Regions from separate parts of the Homo sapiens genome. Here all the other regions are linked to region 1. The links come from fine-mapping of genetic effects on gene expression. A gene starts in region 1. Each other region holds a variant in brackets. All regions are shown on one strand. Distances are from middle to middle. Region 1 holds the start of DHX58 (DExH-box helicase 58). Region 2 overlaps RAB5C (RAB5C, member RAS oncogene family). Region 3 holds the start of KRT17 (keratin 17).

Region 1 (5,214 bases):
GTGTGTAGACCTGTTCTACGTCTACATGCATATATGTGTGTGAGTGAGGAGGGGCAGGCCAGGATCTTGGCTCTTGCTCTGCTCCCTTGGGGAAGTTATGAGGGGAGGTGCTGGATTAGGTGGCGTTGCAGCTGGGTGGGTGCAGCCAGTGGCTCCGACTGTGGCCCTGGGAGGGGTTGTTGTTGGGGCTGGAGTTGGCCCCTCAGTCCCTTCCTTCCCTCAGATCATCAAGAAGCTGATTGAGCGCAAACAGGCCCAGATCCGCAAGGTCTACCCGGGGCTCAGCTGCTTCAAGGAGGGCGTGAGGCAGATCCCTGTGGAGAGCGTTCCTGGCATTCGTAAGCAGGGGTCTCAGTTGCAGGGTAGTGGGGGCACGATGCTTGGGGTGTGGACTGGCATTCTTAGAGACATTCTCCCACTTCCCACTTTGCAGGAGAGACAGGCTGGAAGCCATTGGGGAAGGAGAAGGGGTGAGTGTCAAAGGAGCCGGGTTGGGGGTGGGGCAGAGGGACTTGGAGCCTCAGACTTGGTGTCTCTCGCCCCAGGAAGGAGCTGAAGGACCCCGACCAGCTCTACACAACCCTCAAAAACCTGCTGGCCCAAATCAAGGTGGGGAGACCAGGTTTCCTTTCCAGGGCCCCTGCACCAATGGCTGTGGCCTCTTGATGCAGTGTGGGGTGGGTAGTGGTCTCGGGCTGGCGTGGGCGCAGCAGGGCTGTCCCCAGCCCGGCTCTTCTCTCCAGTCTCACCCCAGTGCCTGGCCCTTCATGGAGCCTGTGAAGAAGTCGGAGGCCCCTGACTACTACGAGGTCATCCGCTTCCCCATTGGTGAGGACCTTCCATTCCATCCCCTTCCCTCCTCTTCTGTCCCCACACCTGCTCCTGCCCTCACTGCGCCCTGCAGCCCCAGGGGGCCCACCCTGGTGGACAGCCCTGCCGTGGTCTTCAGCCTCTTAAAGCTGTGCTCCGTCTCCTGCTGCCCCAGACCTGAAGACCATGACTGAGCGGCTGCGAAGCCGCTACTACGTGACCCGGAAGCTCTTTGTGGCCGACCTGCAGCGGGTCATCGCCAACTGTCGCGAGTACAACCCCCCGGACAGCGAGTACTGCCGCTGTGCCAGCGCCCTGGAGAAGTTCTTCTACTTCAAGCTCAAGGAGGGAGGCCTCATTGACAAGTAGGCCCATCTTTGGGCCGCAGCCCTGACCTGGAATGTCTCCACCTCGGATTCTGATCTGATCCTTAGGGGGTGCCCTGGCCCCACGGACCCGACTCAGCTTGAGACACTCCAGCCAAGGGTCCTCCGGACCCGATCCTGCAGCTCTTTCTGGACCTTCAGGCACCCCCAAGCGTGCAGCTCTGTCCCAGCCTTCACTGTGTGTGAGAGGTCTCCTGGGTTGGGGCCCAGCCCCTCTAGAGTAGCTGGTGGCCAGGGATGAACCTTGCCCAGCCGTGGTGGCCCCCAGGCCTGGTCCCCAAGAGCTTTGGAGGCTTGGATTCCTGGGCCTGGCCCAGGTGGCTGTTTCCCTGAGGACCAGAACTGCTCATTTTAGCTTGAGTGATGGCTTCAGGGGTTGGAAGTTCAGCCCAAACTGAAGGGGGCCATGCCTTGTCCAGCACTGTTCTGTCAGTCTCCCCCAGGGGTGGGGGGTATGGGGACCATTCATTCCCTGGCATTAATCCCTTAGAGGGAATAATAAAGCTTTTTATTTCTCTGTGTGATTGTTTCTTTGGTGTAGTCCCAGCCTTAGCAGGCTCACCTTGGCCCCCAGGGACCTCTTGCAAACTGGAGGCTGCTCTCCCCAGCAAGCCTCAGGCCTGGTCCTGTGCTCCTGGGGTGATGGGTCCTACCTGCCTGCAGCCCCCCACCTCTCCCTCCTCCAGGCTGCTCCTGATCCAGATGCCAGGGCAGCAGGGGTCAGAACCTCCTGCCTTCACCTTAACCTGGGTGGATGTGGTTACAACTGACTGCAGAAGGGCCAGAGCGTAGAGGATCCTGTAGCACTGAAAGAGTGCTTCCCTGTTAGCACACGTGGTTCTTTTTCTTGGGGCAGGGATAGGAGATTCGTAAGTCGGCTCAGCTGGCTCCTCCCCTCAGTTTCAGTTTCCATTTCTGATTTCTGCTCTCTGCGCTGAGCACAGCGGCACCAGGCTGAGCTAAGCAGGGCCGCCTTGGGCAGGCCTACGTGGTGGTGCAGGCGAGACCCAGGCTGGGCAAGGCGCAGGTGTAGCCTGTGTTACTCCCACCCCCCCCCACCCCCACCTTTTGGCCACAGCAGGCTTCTGATGAGTTTTGAGGGTGTCCCCCCCCCCACCTCCCTCAAGTGGGGTGGAGTCCTGGGCAAAGGGAGGTCTCTGTACCGACTGCTCTGGCCAGGAGTTGGGATGAGTGGAGGGCCCAGTGGGTCTGAGTCCCCTGCCATTCCCAGAATGGAGCTGTGGCCCTACCAATGGGAGGTGATCATGCCTGCCAGGGCGCTGGCGCAGCAGCAGTACTTAACCGGAGTTTGTACTCACGGCAGTTGGCGATGACTGTTAGCACAAACGGTTCTTTTCTCTTGGTTCTTTTTCCTGGGGCGGGGATGGGAGATTCCTAAGTCGGCTCAGCTGGCTCCTTCCCTCAGTTTCAGTTTCCATCTTGGGTCTCTGAGCTGAGCAGAGTGGCACCAGGCTGAGTTAAGTGGGACTGCCCTGGGCAGACCTACCTACTAGAGCAGGTGAGTCCTGGGCTGGGCAGGGGGCAGGTGTAGCCTGTGTTACTCCCGCCTCCCCCTTTTGGGCAGAGCAGGGTCCTGATGGGTTCTGAGGGAGTCCTGCCCCACCTCCCTCAAGTGGGGTGGAGTCCTGGGCAAAGGGAGGTCTCTGTACTGACTGGTCTGGCCAGGAGTTGGGAGGGGTGGAGGAGTCGGTGGGTCTGAGTCCCCTGCCATTCCCAGAATGGAGCTTCGGTCCTACCAATGGGAGGTGATCATGCCTGCCCTGGAGGGCAAGAATATCATCATCTGGCTGCCCACGGGTGCCGGGAAGACCCGGGCGGCTGCTTATGTGGCCAAGCGGCACCTAGAGACTGTGGATGGAGCCAAGGTGGTTGTATTGGTCAACAGGGTGAGTGGTCTGTCCCTACCCCGCTCTCCCACCACCAAGCAGGGTCTTAGCTCTTCAGGCATCTCCCAGTCCCCACCAGAACTCCAAAGCTGCTGTGGCCATCGCTAAGCTCACCTGTCTTTCCACCCTGGCTCAGTACCCAGCCATGTCCTGCGGGTCACCTTACCGCCTCCCTACCCCTGGCCCCAGATTCAGCTCTCTTTTCCCAGCTCATTCTCCACCCCCAGGTGCACCTGGTGACCCAGCATGGTGAAGAGTTCAGGCGCATGCTGGATGGACGCTGGACCGTGACAACCCTGAGTGGGGACATGGGACCACGTGCTGGCTTTGGCCACCTGGCCCGGTGCCATGACCTGCTCATCTGCACAGCAGAGCTTCTGCAGATGGCACTGACCAGCCCCGAGGAGGAGGAGCACGTGGAGCTCACTGGTGAGGGCCATGGCCGGGAGGAAAAAGATACGCATCTGGGGTACCTCCTTTCGCCAACCCCAGGGCACCTCCTGGAGTCAAGGTGTTGGGAGTTTTAGTGGGAGTGAGGGGTTGCCTGTTCACAAAACCCCTGCAGGCACTCTAGTAGAAACAGGCCGGGCTATCGTGTAGGATCTTAGGCCAGTCCCTTCCCCAGCTGAGCCTCGGTTTACTAATCTGTGAAATGGAAAGAAGTCTTCCCTGCCTGGCTCCTCATCCTGGGACCAGCTGCAGGTTGTGAAGGGAAGAAGGAATTCTTACATCATTGTGGGGACTACTTGAAAGCTGATGGGAGGAAGGGCTTTGCAAACATAGGTCACAGCCTTCCCCCCTGTGCCCTCAGTCTTCTCCCTGATCGTGGTGGATGAGTGCCACCACACGCACAAGGACACCGTCTACAACGTCATCATGAGCCAGTACCTAGAACTTAAACTCCAGAGGGCACAGCCGCTACCCCAGGTGCTGGGTCTCACAGCCTCCCCAGGCACTGGCGGGGCCTCCAAACTCGATGGGGCCATCAACCACGTCCTGCAGGTCAGCCTGGCCCCTGTGGGCCTCCCACTGCCAGACCCACCAGGGACTTCCCTCCCTCCCTGCCTGCCCTGCCACTACCCCGTCCCCACCAGCCCTACCAGGCTCTCCATGGCAGGGTCTGGCCCCTTCCTCACCTAAGACCCAGCCTCCAATGGTTTCTTATGGTACAAAGAATTAACTCCCGACTCTACTGTGGTTTACAAAGTTCCACGTGATCTACCTCTCCACCTCATTTCCTGCGCCCTCCCTGTTGTAGCTCATCCTACAGTTACACTGGCCTGCCTTCTGCATGTTGAACATGTAGGGCTTGTTCCATCTCGGGGACCTTTGCATTTACCATTTCTTTTGCCTAGAATGCGCTTCCCTTTGAACTTTTCCTGCTGCCTCCTCCTTGTCATTCATTGAACAGCTTAATGCCACCTCTTGAAAGTCCTCCCTGATCTCTGCTCTCTGTCATATCATCCAGTGCTATCCTCTTCAGAGCTTGTTAATGCGCTCTGCAAGGTTTTATTGTTTTCTTTTTTTTTTTTTTTTTTGAGATGGAGTCTCACTCTGTCGCCCAGGCTGGAGGGCAGTGGCATGATTTCGGCTCCCTGCAACCTCCGCCTCCCAGGTTCAAGCGATTCTCCTGCCTCAGCCTCCCGAGTAGCTGGGATTACAGGCACCCACCACTATGCCCAGCTAATTTTTTGTATTTTTAGTAGAGACGGGGTTTCACCGTGTTGGCCATGCTGGTCTCGAACTCCTGACCTCGTGATTCACCTGCCTTGGCCTCCCATAGTGCTGGGATTACAGGCGTGAGCCACTGTGCCCAGCCTCTTTTTTTTTTTTTGAGACGGAGTCTCTGTTACCCAGGCTGGAGTGCAGTGGCACGATCTTGGCTCACTGCAACCTCCACCTCCCGGGTTCAAGTGATTCTTCTGTCTCAGCCTCCCGAGTAGCTGAGACTACAGGCGCGTGCCACCATGCCTGGCTAATTTTTGTATTTTTAGTAGAGGTGGGGTTTCACCACGTTGGCCAGGCTGTCTCAAACTCCTGACCTCAGGTGACCCGCCCGCCTTGGCCTCCCAAAGTGCTGGGATTACAGGTGTGAGCCACCATGCCTGGCC
Region 2 (5,214 bases), 26 kb before region 1:
AAATATTGTTCTTTGGTGCCCAGGCTTCTGAGAATAGCCATCGTCCCTCAGGTCTCCCACTGAGAACTTTGACTTTTTTCTTGTTGGTTGCATAGCCGCTGACCACGGTGTGTGTGGTGTCTGAACAGGAGGCATTTGGATTGCTATTTCTCTTTTCTCCCACTTTCCTCTCAAACTTGACCTCTGCTCTCTGTTTAGGAGCTGAAGGCAAAACAAAGGGGCAGTGATTTAAACTGGCTTTCTTTTGTTTTCTGTTATTTGTAAGGGCGGGAAGGGTTTTGGAGAGGTGTCCGCTGGTGTGAGTGGCTGGATGAACAGGTGCTGCTTCTGATCCTGACTTTCAGCAGAGGTTTCTGGAGTCTTTCTGGGCCTAGGGAAGCAGCAGAAGTGGCAGCTGTCCTGGCTGGTGCTTCTGACCCCTGCAGAGCCCCTTTTGAGACGGGGGGAAGACGGGCCCTACATTGATGAGATTCCGGTGAGAAATGTCCTAGCTAAATAGTAACTGCCTGAACAAATGAAATACAGGATAGTTGGGGTAGGCTGGGGCCAGAAGAACCTTTGCCTTGGATGGCACTCTTCCTAGCATCCTGCCTGGCATTGGCAGGTGAAGAACTGACTGGTGGCGTGTGAGCCACCATACAGCCATGTTGTCATCCCTAACAAGCCCTGTGGCTGGGACGTGTGTGTGGTTCTGGGCTGCAGAAAGATTCCAAGTTGAGCTTTTGCTTGAGGCTTGAGAGAGCAGCCCTAGACAGGAGTAGAGAATCTGGCACAGCCTGGATCACAAGGTCAGGAAATCGAGACCATCCTGACTAACATGGTGAAACCCCATCTCTACTAAAAAATACAAAAAATTAGCTGGATGTGGTGGCACGCGTATGTAGTCCTAGCTACTCAGGAGGCTGAGGCAGAATTGCTTGAACCTGGGAGCTGGAGGTTGCAGTGAGCCGAGATCACGCCACTGCACTCCAACCTGGGTGACAGAGCAAGATTCCGTCTCAAAAAAAAAGAATCTGCCACAACCTTGCTGACTGAGGTGTGCTGTTAGACACTGGGCCCTCTTAGGGAGAACAGTCTCAGGAATGTCAGCGTTAGGGCCTGGCCCCCCTGGTGCCTTTTGGAATCGGTAGGCTGGCGGAGAGCCTTGCCTGGTGCAGCTGCAGGCAGTGCCCTGTCTGTGGGCCTTCCGTGCTACCTGTCTCCTCTGTTGGCCAGCAGGGCCAATGACTGAGAGTTGTTGAGCTGCCCATGAAGCCTGGGGCCCTTCTGTGGACAGCACTGGCCGACCACACTGGCCAAGCTGTGCTAGCAGATCCATGGAGATGTCCTCCCACCCCAATAGTCTTCCTCCCTGTGGGTGCAGAAAGAGGGAGTGGATGCTGGAGGTTTCCATCCAGCCCTGACTGCTCCTCTCTGAGCCTCTCCAGAGAACCCATCTGTCATTGAGAGCTGGGAAGAAGCTCAGGGATCAGGGAAGGATTTCATGGTGTTCTGCTGGGGTAGAGTCCTGGAAAGCTAAGGGTCTGTCCCTCAGGGGTGTCTTCCACCCGAGTGAGCTTGGCATCTGTCCTAAGTGATACAAGACTTCCCACACAAGGGAAAGGGCTGCAGGAGCCAGCTGTGCTCTGTCCTGGCTGACTTCAGCAAAGTTCCAGGCTCAGTCTGCATAGTGTTTATTAAAGATCACTTGGTAATGTGTATCCAGGCTTTAAGCCTCTTGATGCCTCTGCACACTGGCCCCTTTTGCAGGTATTGGTGGAGTTGGTGTCTGCACTTGGGGCTCTGGTGGACCCCATCAGGGCCTGATTGTGGTGTGGAAGTCTAGGCACTAAGCCTCAGAAATCTTATTGAAAAAAGAATGAAATGAAACCAATCTCAGTTAAGGAAGGTGGGGGTGCTTTCCCTGTGGAAGGGGACCCAGCTCACCTTCAGTGCCCCTCTGGGATAATTTACTTCCCTTTCCGCTGGAAAAAGGGTCATCTTCCTGTGGCTGTGGAAAGGCAGCACCTTCCTCCCTACTGCTGCCTCCCCCAAGTCTAGGTTTAAGAGCTGGACCTCCTGAAGGTGGGAGGTGGAGCCCACCCTGTTGCAACACCCCCCATTGGGATTCGGCTAGATCTCACCCTGGGCTCTTAAGCTTCTGGCTTCCAGGGCCAGGGCCAAGCTTCCCCTGTTAGACTCTTAGGTAAGACACAGGCCCTGTGTGAAGCAGTTCCATAGGCCTGGTCACACAGAGGACACCCTTCTCTTTGATTCCATCCCCCAACCCCTAAACCCCCCTTTCCTCTGCAGATATACTCTAGACTGGTTGGGGAGTGGAGAATATCATACTGTTATAACCTCTTTCTCCCCATCGAAAAGACATAAATATCAGTTTCTCTTTATTATTGTGAAGCTTTAAACCACTTGAAAATCCTTTAGCCCACAGTTAAGCCCAAACAGTAAATATATCCTTAATATATATGTGGGAATCTTATTTTTTATGAGGAATCCCATTGTCTTGCACCTTATTTGTGTTTAACATTTGGGTATCTTTGTTCTCCGTTGGTCTTTTCCAATTCAGGTATCATCTTTTTGATTGTCTTTTTTTTTTTTGAGACAGAGTCTCGCTCTCTCGCCAGGCCGGAGTGCAGTGGCACTATCTCAGCTCAGTGCAACCTCTGCCTCCCGGGTTCAAGCGATTCTCCTGCCTCAGCCTCCCGAGTAGCTGGGACTACAGGTATGCGCCACCACGCCCAGCTAATTTTTGTATTTTTAGTAGAGACGGGGTTTCACCATGTTGGCCGGGATGGTGTCGATCTCTTGACCTCATGATCCACCCGCCTCAGCCTCCCAAAGCGCTGGGATTATAGGCGTGAGCCACCGTGCCCGGCCCTTGATTGTCTTTAATATTATTTTCTTCATACTAAAGAGGCAGAAAATATTTTATATACAGAGGAGCTAGATTGCATTCATATC[G/A]TTTCCAAGCTTTAACTTTTCATGATTATATGCAAAATTCTATACCAGCAGCATTTTTTAACCTTTTTATTGACATGTGACTTATGTATAATAGTTTACAAATTGTAAATACAGCTCGATGGGTTTTTATATTATTATACACTCATGTATTTACCTCTCAAATCAAGTTATAACTCCTCCATCCAGCAGTGTGCTTTTTTTTTTTTTTCTTTTTTTTGAGACAGTGTCTCGCTCTGTTGTCCAGGCTGGAGTGCAATGGTGCGATCTTCGCTCACCACAACCTCTGTCTCCTGGGTTCAAGTGATTCTCCTGCCTCAGCCTCCCAAGTAGCTGGGATTACAGGTGCCAGCCACCACACCCAGCTAATTTTTGTATTTTTAGTACAGTCGGGGTTTCACCAGGTTGGACAGGCTGGTCTCCAACTCCTGACCTCAGGTGATCCACCCACCTCAGCCTCCCAAAGTGCTGGGATTACAGGCATGAGCCACCTCACCCGGCGGCAATGTGCTTTTTTCAGTTTGATAGAAACTCATTTTTTCCTAGCTAAAAGCTACATTTTTTAAAAACATGCATAGAAGGTCGCAGTCCCTGTTATTTTTAGTAACAGGGGTTATGGTAATGAGATTGTTAATATTCTGGGGTTTTTCTTTCTATCTCTAATAGGAGAGCCTTGCTTGAGTTATGAGTCTTGGGCAGGCTTGGGCTCTGCCACCAGCTAGCTGGCTGTGTGACCCTAGGCAGGTCACTTCTCCTCACCTTCATTTTTTTTCTTTAATTGTCAACAGTAGGATGGGGTCTTTAAGGCCCTTTTGGGCTCTGACTACCAATTCTAGCCTCTGGGGTAATAAACCTGCCACTTGTTGAAAGCTCACCTTCAGCCTGATACTGTGGTGCATTGTTTCACTTGATCTGAACTACCCCATGCAATTAGTATTAAAGAATACCAATTTTTAGATAAGGAACTGAAGCTGATAATGATCACTTGTGTGACTTGGCCAAGGTCACACGGCTAATAAACGGTGGAGTGGAGCTTGAACCAAACCCGGCTCAGCCTCCCAAGTCCTAACCTGCTAGCCACGCTGGGGAAGGTTGTGGGTACCTCGTGTGGATCGTGGCTGGCGTTGCTTCAGATTCTTCTTTCCTCTGGGTCTGCAACCAGCTAGAAGCCTGGATAGTCCTGCTGTGAGTCTGTCCTCTGTTTCTGTGTGCTGGCAGTGGTTTTCCCTTTTGAGGAAGAGCTGTGTTCTTGAGCCTATGGGTAAATCATCTCCCCAACTAATCGGAGCCTGGGAAGCATTTGCAAAACCTTGACTCCAGTTGGCTTTTAAATCAAATGTCTTCCACTTTAGCCTTTGAACCGAGTTACTTCCTCCTGTGTCTCTTGCTCCATTTTCTTTAACAACTCCTTTCTGCTGTTGTTTTTTTGGTTTGATTTTGTTTTGTTTTGCTGGACTCTTGTTTAAATATTCAGGAATGCCCTTTTCCGGGGTAAAATGTAGCTGAAGAGTCACTGGTCAGAAGCACCTGCAGGGGACCCTGGGCGGGGTCACTTGGTTCTCAGGCCACCTGGCTAACCTTGAGTGAGCTAGTCTCTACGCCCCGCCTGCCCTGGTCAACAGTCTGATTGGTTTCCCTAATCAGCTTGCTCTCCAGGCTGTGCCAGGACTCTCAGCTAGAGGAAGTCTCTAAAGCAAACAGGAAGTACACGAGACACTCATCAGCTGGAATTGCTCACCCTTTTACCAGGAAGGACAAAACATATGAAGTGGGTGACTTCGTGGATTAGAGGAAAGGTGAAACTTTCAAAGGGAGGTTAGGGGGAGGAATTGCAGCAGCATCTAGTGTCTTGGAGAAGGCTCCAGTTGCTGAGTGAAGCTGAAGACCCCTCCCACATTCATGGACTTACACATGCACACTTACGAGTTGTGCACAGCACTGATCGGGGGTGCCTTTCTGTCTCTTGGATTTCTCCCTCCTTCGTATATCAACTGTAGCTCTTGTGCTTCGATCAACTGCTTAAAATCACTGGGAACTTATTTTTAAAATACTGATTTCTGGACTCCACCTCTAGAGATTCTAATTCAGTTGGTCAGGGTATTTTCTAAAGGCCCTGGGTGATTCTGGTGAAGAAGAGTTTGACTGGAGGCTGAAATAGAAGGATCACTTGAGCCTGGGAGGTCAAGGCTGCAGTGAATCGTGATTGCATCACTGCTCTAGCCTGGGCAACAGTGAGACTCTATCTCCAAAAAAAAAAAA
Region 3 (5,214 bases), 490 kb after region 1:
ACCCCAAGGCAGGGGAGAGGCTGAGGACCCTTCTGTGTGGGAGACTGGGGGGACCACAGACGCGGGGGCAGGCGGGGGGAAGAGCTCCTGCCTGATGTTCCCTGTGCCTCCCTCCTCCATCGCCTGCAGCCACAGTGACCAGCCACCAGGTGTGCCATCGTGGAGGAAGTCCAGGTTGGAGAGGTGGTCTTCTTCTGTGAGCAGGTCCACTTCTCCACCCACTGAGACCCCTTTCTGTCTGCGACAGCCCCACCTCGAGGGCCACGGCACAGCCATCAGCTCCAGCTCCCAGCATGCTACTGCCACGCCCCGAGTGTCCGTCTGGGCCCCGGTGCATGGCCTGTTGTCTTTCTGTATCTACTTTCTGCAGCCCCTCACTGAGGAGGCCTCCTGGGTTTGTCCAGTGCCTACTATTAAAGCTTTGCTCCAAGTTCAATGCCTCGTGTGATCTGATCTGCTCATTGGTTTGGGGCAGTGTGGGCTGAGGGACTGGGGGAGGTGGAGTTTATTGAGTGTTTGGGTATGGGCTTGTCACCTGCCAATCTGTTCTGCCCACTCCATCCAGGCCTGGGGCTCCTGGAAAGATGAGAGGGGAGGAGGCGGAAAGATTAAGGGTGGAGGGATGGGACAGCCCCTTGTATTGGGAAAAGTTTCTAAGAATCAGCCCCTGAGTCCCTGTCACCTGTGGCTGGTCCCTGGGAGGGCCACACAGACTTTCCAAGGATGGTGCCTGTTGGGGAGCACTCCCTGCCTCAGCCCAGGGCGGGTTCAAGAGCAGAAGGAGAGGGGCTTGGTGGGGAGGGGCTTCTGAAGGAGTGGTCCATGGCATTGATGAGTGAGAGGGCATGGCAGTGACGCAGCCAGCCCAGGAAACCAGACCGGCTCTGCCCCAGCTCGGGGTGTGTGTGGGGCGGGGTGGCCGCTGTGCGTGTACGCGTAGGGGGCATCCTGTTTGCTTTGGTGGCTTGGCAGCCACTGGGCTATTGAGGAATGTCTCTCGGCTGCTGGCGGGGCCGTCTGGGCCTGTCTGGGAAGTGGAAGCCATCGGCAGTCTGAAACATGACCACATTCCACCCAGCGGGCCTGGCGGGACCCTGGGACCCAGGGCCGGGCTTGGGGTGGTGGGCAGGGCAGGGTGGGGCTGTGGGGTGGGGCACATGGCCCACCTGAGGAGCCACATCTTGGGGAGCCTGGAGTGGGAAGGGGGCTGGCTGGGGTCTCTGTAAGAGCCTCTTCTTGGGCAATGTCCTTTAGGTTTCCTGTGGGCTGAGACCTGAGATAAATACCCGTCACCTGACCCTGAGGTCTCTTGGGGTACAGAAGGGTGAGGGGAGTGGAAGGGGGCATCCCCCTCTCAGTTGGCACAGCCCACCATTTCCCCATCCTATAGCTGAGCCCCTGTTTGCCCACCCCAGCCTGGAGTGTAAACCTGGGGAAAGGTTTACACGAAGAGACTGGGTTAGCAAGGATTTCTAGGGATGGGGCAGGGTCAGAAGCTGACTGGATGGAACTGTAGCCCCTAGAGTGCATTCCTGGGTGTCAGGCTCTGCAGAAGGGGCCAGTGTGGACACGGCACCCCTCTGGAGCCCCAATTTCTTTATCTGTGATGTGGGTTGGTCTCCGAGGCTTGATGGCATTTCTATGCTGTGAGGTGGGCCTGGTGGGTTTGGGCTCAGTTTCCAAGGCAGGATAGGCTCTCGGTCTCCTCTTTCTCTTCAGCACCCAGCCCCGGGGCCAGCACCGTGGGTGGAGCAGTGTGGGGTGAAAGACAGCAACTTTGGCGGGGGGGTCAGCTGACACTGCAACCCATTTCCCCACCAGACAGGGTTGAGGCGGGCCAGGCTGGGGTGGTGGCTGCCTGGGAGGGCCTGGGGACGGTGACGTCCTGCCTTCTCCTCTTCTCCGTATTAGGTCATGGGAAAGCATAGCTGGAGGGCCCGCCTGAATCACAGGTGACGGGCCTGAGACCAGAGGCACGCACACGCACGGCACTCAGCACGAGGATTTGGAGAAATGAGGCAAATTCCTGATGATGGGCGGGGAGGGGGCCCCCAGCCACCTGGGAGCTGGCAGGTGGCCAGTGGTGATGAAAGCCCAGGGGAATGGAAACAGAGGAGCAAGCCTGTTGTAATCGCTACGCCCACTTGGTGGCCTATAAAGGAAGCGGGCGAACCCCGGCAGCCCTACACAACTTGGGGCCCCTCTCCTCTCCAGCCCTTCTCCTGTGTGCCTGCCTCCTGCCGCCGCCACCATGACCACC[T/A]CCATCCGCCAGTTCACCTCCTCCAGCTCCATCAAGGGCTCCTCCGGCCTGGGGGGCGGCTCGTCCCGCACCTCCTGCCGGCTGTCTGGCGGCCTGGGTGCCGGCTCCTGCAGGCTGGGATCTGCTGGCGGCCTGGGCAGCACCCTCGGGGGTAGCAGCTACTCCAGCTGCTACAGCTTTGGCTCTGGTGGTGGCTATGGCAGCAGCTTTGGGGGTGTTGATGGGCTGCTGGCTGGAGGTGAGAAGGCCACCATGCAGAACCTCAATGACCGCCTGGCCTCCTACCTGGACAAGGTGCGTGCCCTGGAGGAGGCCAACACTGAGCTGGAGGTGAAGATCCGTGACTGGTACCAGAGGCAGGCCCCGGGGCCCGCCCGTGACTACAGCCAGTACTACAGGACAATTGAGGAGCTGCAGAACAAGGTAGGGCCTGCTGGTGGGAGGGGTCTCCGGGGGGCATGACTTCTTCCCCCCAACTCCTGCCTTGGCCAAAGGCCTGGAGTCCAGCCATAGGGTCTCAGGGAGCCAAGGGTGGTTTGGCTGTGGCTTAGCTTCTGGGAACCTGCCTTGGGGCCCCTGTGTGGCTCACATCCCCCTTTTCTGGGGACAGCAAGCTGAGTCAGGAACAAAGAGGCCTTGTGGAGCCCCTTGGAGCCTCAGTTTCTCCCTCGTGGAGCTCCGCCACCTGGAGAGGTTGTAGGATGAGGCAGGAGGATGCAGATGGAGGGCTGGGCCCGTGGGCTGCTGGATGTGTGGTGTCTTGCTCCTTTGGAGCAGGGGTCAACAGGAGGGGGTTTTGGGTGATGTGGAGTGGGGGTGTCTGAGTGAGCTCCTGATAGCACCTGCTGCAGGAGGAGGCAGAAAGGAGGGGGCGGGACCTCAGTGTGGGGAAGGCCTCTGATGTGCCTTATTTGGGGATTTTTCTGGCTTCTCCTTTCCTCCTGCTGTCCCTTAAGACGGGCTCAGCAAACCCCAGGGGGCGGGGCTGCTGGCTGGCGCCCAGGGTTAGGGATTAGGAGGGGTCCTGACTTTTGATTTGGAACCACTCTTTAATGAGGGCTCCTTTAGCCTCCTTTTGGGGGAGCCTGTCAGGGGCACCCTCTAGCTGACTGTAAAACGAGGGGGTTGCCCACATCCCCTCCCTTGTTCTAGAATTCTGGGACAGCTTCTGCCCTGGGGACATTTTCCCATTCTTTTCTGGTTGCCTCATACTCCCAGCCAGCTGTCTCTTCTCCTTTAAGGCCGAGCCTGCCATGGGGGTCTGGTGGGGTACTGAGTATCGGGGGAAGAAGAGGCACCTTTCAGCCCTTCAGACTCCTGTTTGCCCCTCCTCTGCCAATAATACAGCACGGGGCAAGGGAGGGGCTGGGCGAGAAGAGAGGCCCTGAGGCAGGAAGATCTGCTCAGAACCCTGGTGTGGGCTCAGCCACCCCCATCCAATGACCTGACTACTCTCCCTTCTCCTCAGATCCTCACAGCCACCGTGGACAATGCCAACATCCTGCTACAGATTGACAATGCCCGTCTGGCTGCTGATGACTTCCGCACCAAGTGAGTCCTAGCTGTGGCCTTGGGCAGCCTGGGCCAGCTGGCGGAGGATCTCAGGGTACCCCTCCTGACCCCAGGATTCCTTGGTTGCTTGTGGCAAGGCCCAGGAGCTCAGGGTGGGGCAGTCCTAGGAGCCCCACTCCTTAGTCCAGGATGCAGTGAAGGCAGCCAGTTCTGAAGGTTGCTGAGCTTAGGCAGGGAATAGAAGAGAAGGAGGGGAGGCGGGAGGCGGGAGGCAGAGAGAAGTAAGGAAGCTGGTGGGCGTGGGATCTGGCCCTGTGATGGTCCCGGGGTCCCGGGGCTGGAATTCGTTTCCACTCGACCCTCTCATCAGCCCTTCCAACTCCTTAGAGTCCTGGCAAAATGAAGGCAGGTGAGCAGCCAGGACCTGGATCTGCAGGTCCAAGCAGCCTGGGCTGAAGTCTCTGATTCCCACGGCAGGTTTGAGACAGAGCAGGCCCTGCGCCTGAGTGTGGAGGCCGACATCAATGGCCTGCGCAGGGTGCTGGATGAGCTGACCCTGGCCAGAGCCGACCTGGAGATGCAGATTGAGAACCTCAAGGAGGAGCTGGCCTACCTGAAGAAGAACCACGAGGAGGTGAGGTGGCTGGGGCAGAAGGTCAAAGATGCTGAGGAGTGGGTGGCAGAGCCCTGGGGCTGGGCAATGGCTGAGGCCGTGGGAGAGAGCAGAGCAGGTGCACCGGGATTAGTCACCTTAGAGGGCTTCCCTGTCTGCAGAGCCCTGATCCTTGGGGTCCAGTGTGCAGGGCAGACTCCTCTTTGTACCACACTGCTTCTCTGTACACAAGGAACCTCCCAGGGGCCTGCAGAGGCTCCCTCTACCTACCCTGCCTCCCTCATGAGGGTGGGGGATAAGTAAGGAAATCTTGTCCCATTTCAAACTCTCAAAGCTGAACATCTACATAGAAGCTTGGAAATTAGAGGGGAACTTTTGGGGGCATAGGCCTAATAATTAGATTTTATTTTGGAGAGTCCTTGGTCTAATGGGGGAGATAGAGTCTGATGGTGGAGGCAATACTGAGCAGATGAATAAAAATCATTTAGAGGGTCAGATAGAGCAGAGGGAGAACAAAGGAGGGGTCCTTGTGGGAAGTGGGGTCCCCTTGTGGGGGAAGGCTTGGGAGTGAGAGGTCAGGATGGGTCCAGATGCGCACATCCACATCCCCTTTTTCCATAGGAGATGAACGCCCTGCGAGGCCAGGTGGGTGGTGAGATCAATGTGGAGATGGACGCTGCCCCAGGCGTGGACCTGAGCCGCATCCTCAACGAGATGCGTGACCAGTATGAGAAGATGGCAGAGAAGAACCGCAAGGATGCCGAGGATTGGTTCTTCAGCAAGGTGGGGGGTGCTGCAGGCCAGAGGGCTCTCTTAGGGGCTGGGGCTC

Evidence for each region. PIP is the estimated chance that this variant, and not a neighbour inherited with it, causes the effect. A credible set is the group of variants that fine-mapping cannot tell apart.
Region 2: its variant is the best candidate, but not a certain one, in a credible set for the expression of DHX58 in breast (GTEx, PIP 0.66).
Region 3: its variant is the best candidate, but not a certain one, in a credible set for the expression of DHX58 in fibroblasts (GTEx, PIP 0.66).

What each region holds. Positions count from the first base shown.
Region 1 is chr17:42,109,614-42,114,827 of GRCh38, reverse strand. DHX58 (DExH-box helicase 58) reads left to right here and starts at 2,114. Exons shown (of 14, transcript NM_024119.3): 1 at 2,114-2,223; 2 at 2,623-2,715; 3 at 2,935-3,103; 4 at 3,331-3,532; 5 at 3,915-4,105. The coding sequence starts at 2,936. It overlaps KAT2A (lysine acetyltransferase 2A), which reads left to right. Exons shown (of 18, transcript NM_021078.3): 14 at 224-338; 15 at 434-470; 16 at 546-609; 17 at 744-828; 18 at 986-1,717. The coding sequence ends at 1,179. RefSeq lists enhancers at 1,747-2,266, 2,507-2,606.
Region 2 is chr17:42,135,267-42,140,480 of GRCh38, reverse strand. The region is part of intron 1 of RAB5C (RAB5C, member RAS oncogene family); the gene reads left to right. Among named protein-coding and RNA genes, the nearest start is that of HSPB9, 15 kb to the right of the region's middle. The variant G/A (reference allele first, on the strand shown) is at 2,959.
Region 3 is chr17:41,621,547-41,626,760 of GRCh38, reverse strand. KRT17 (keratin 17) reads left to right here and starts at 2,186. Exons shown (of 8, transcript NM_000422.3): 1 at 2,186-2,683; 2 at 3,729-3,811; 3 at 4,250-4,406; 4 at 5,007-5,168. The coding sequence starts at 2,252. It also overlaps the pseudogene KRT42P. The variant T/A (reference allele first, on the strand shown) is at 2,261.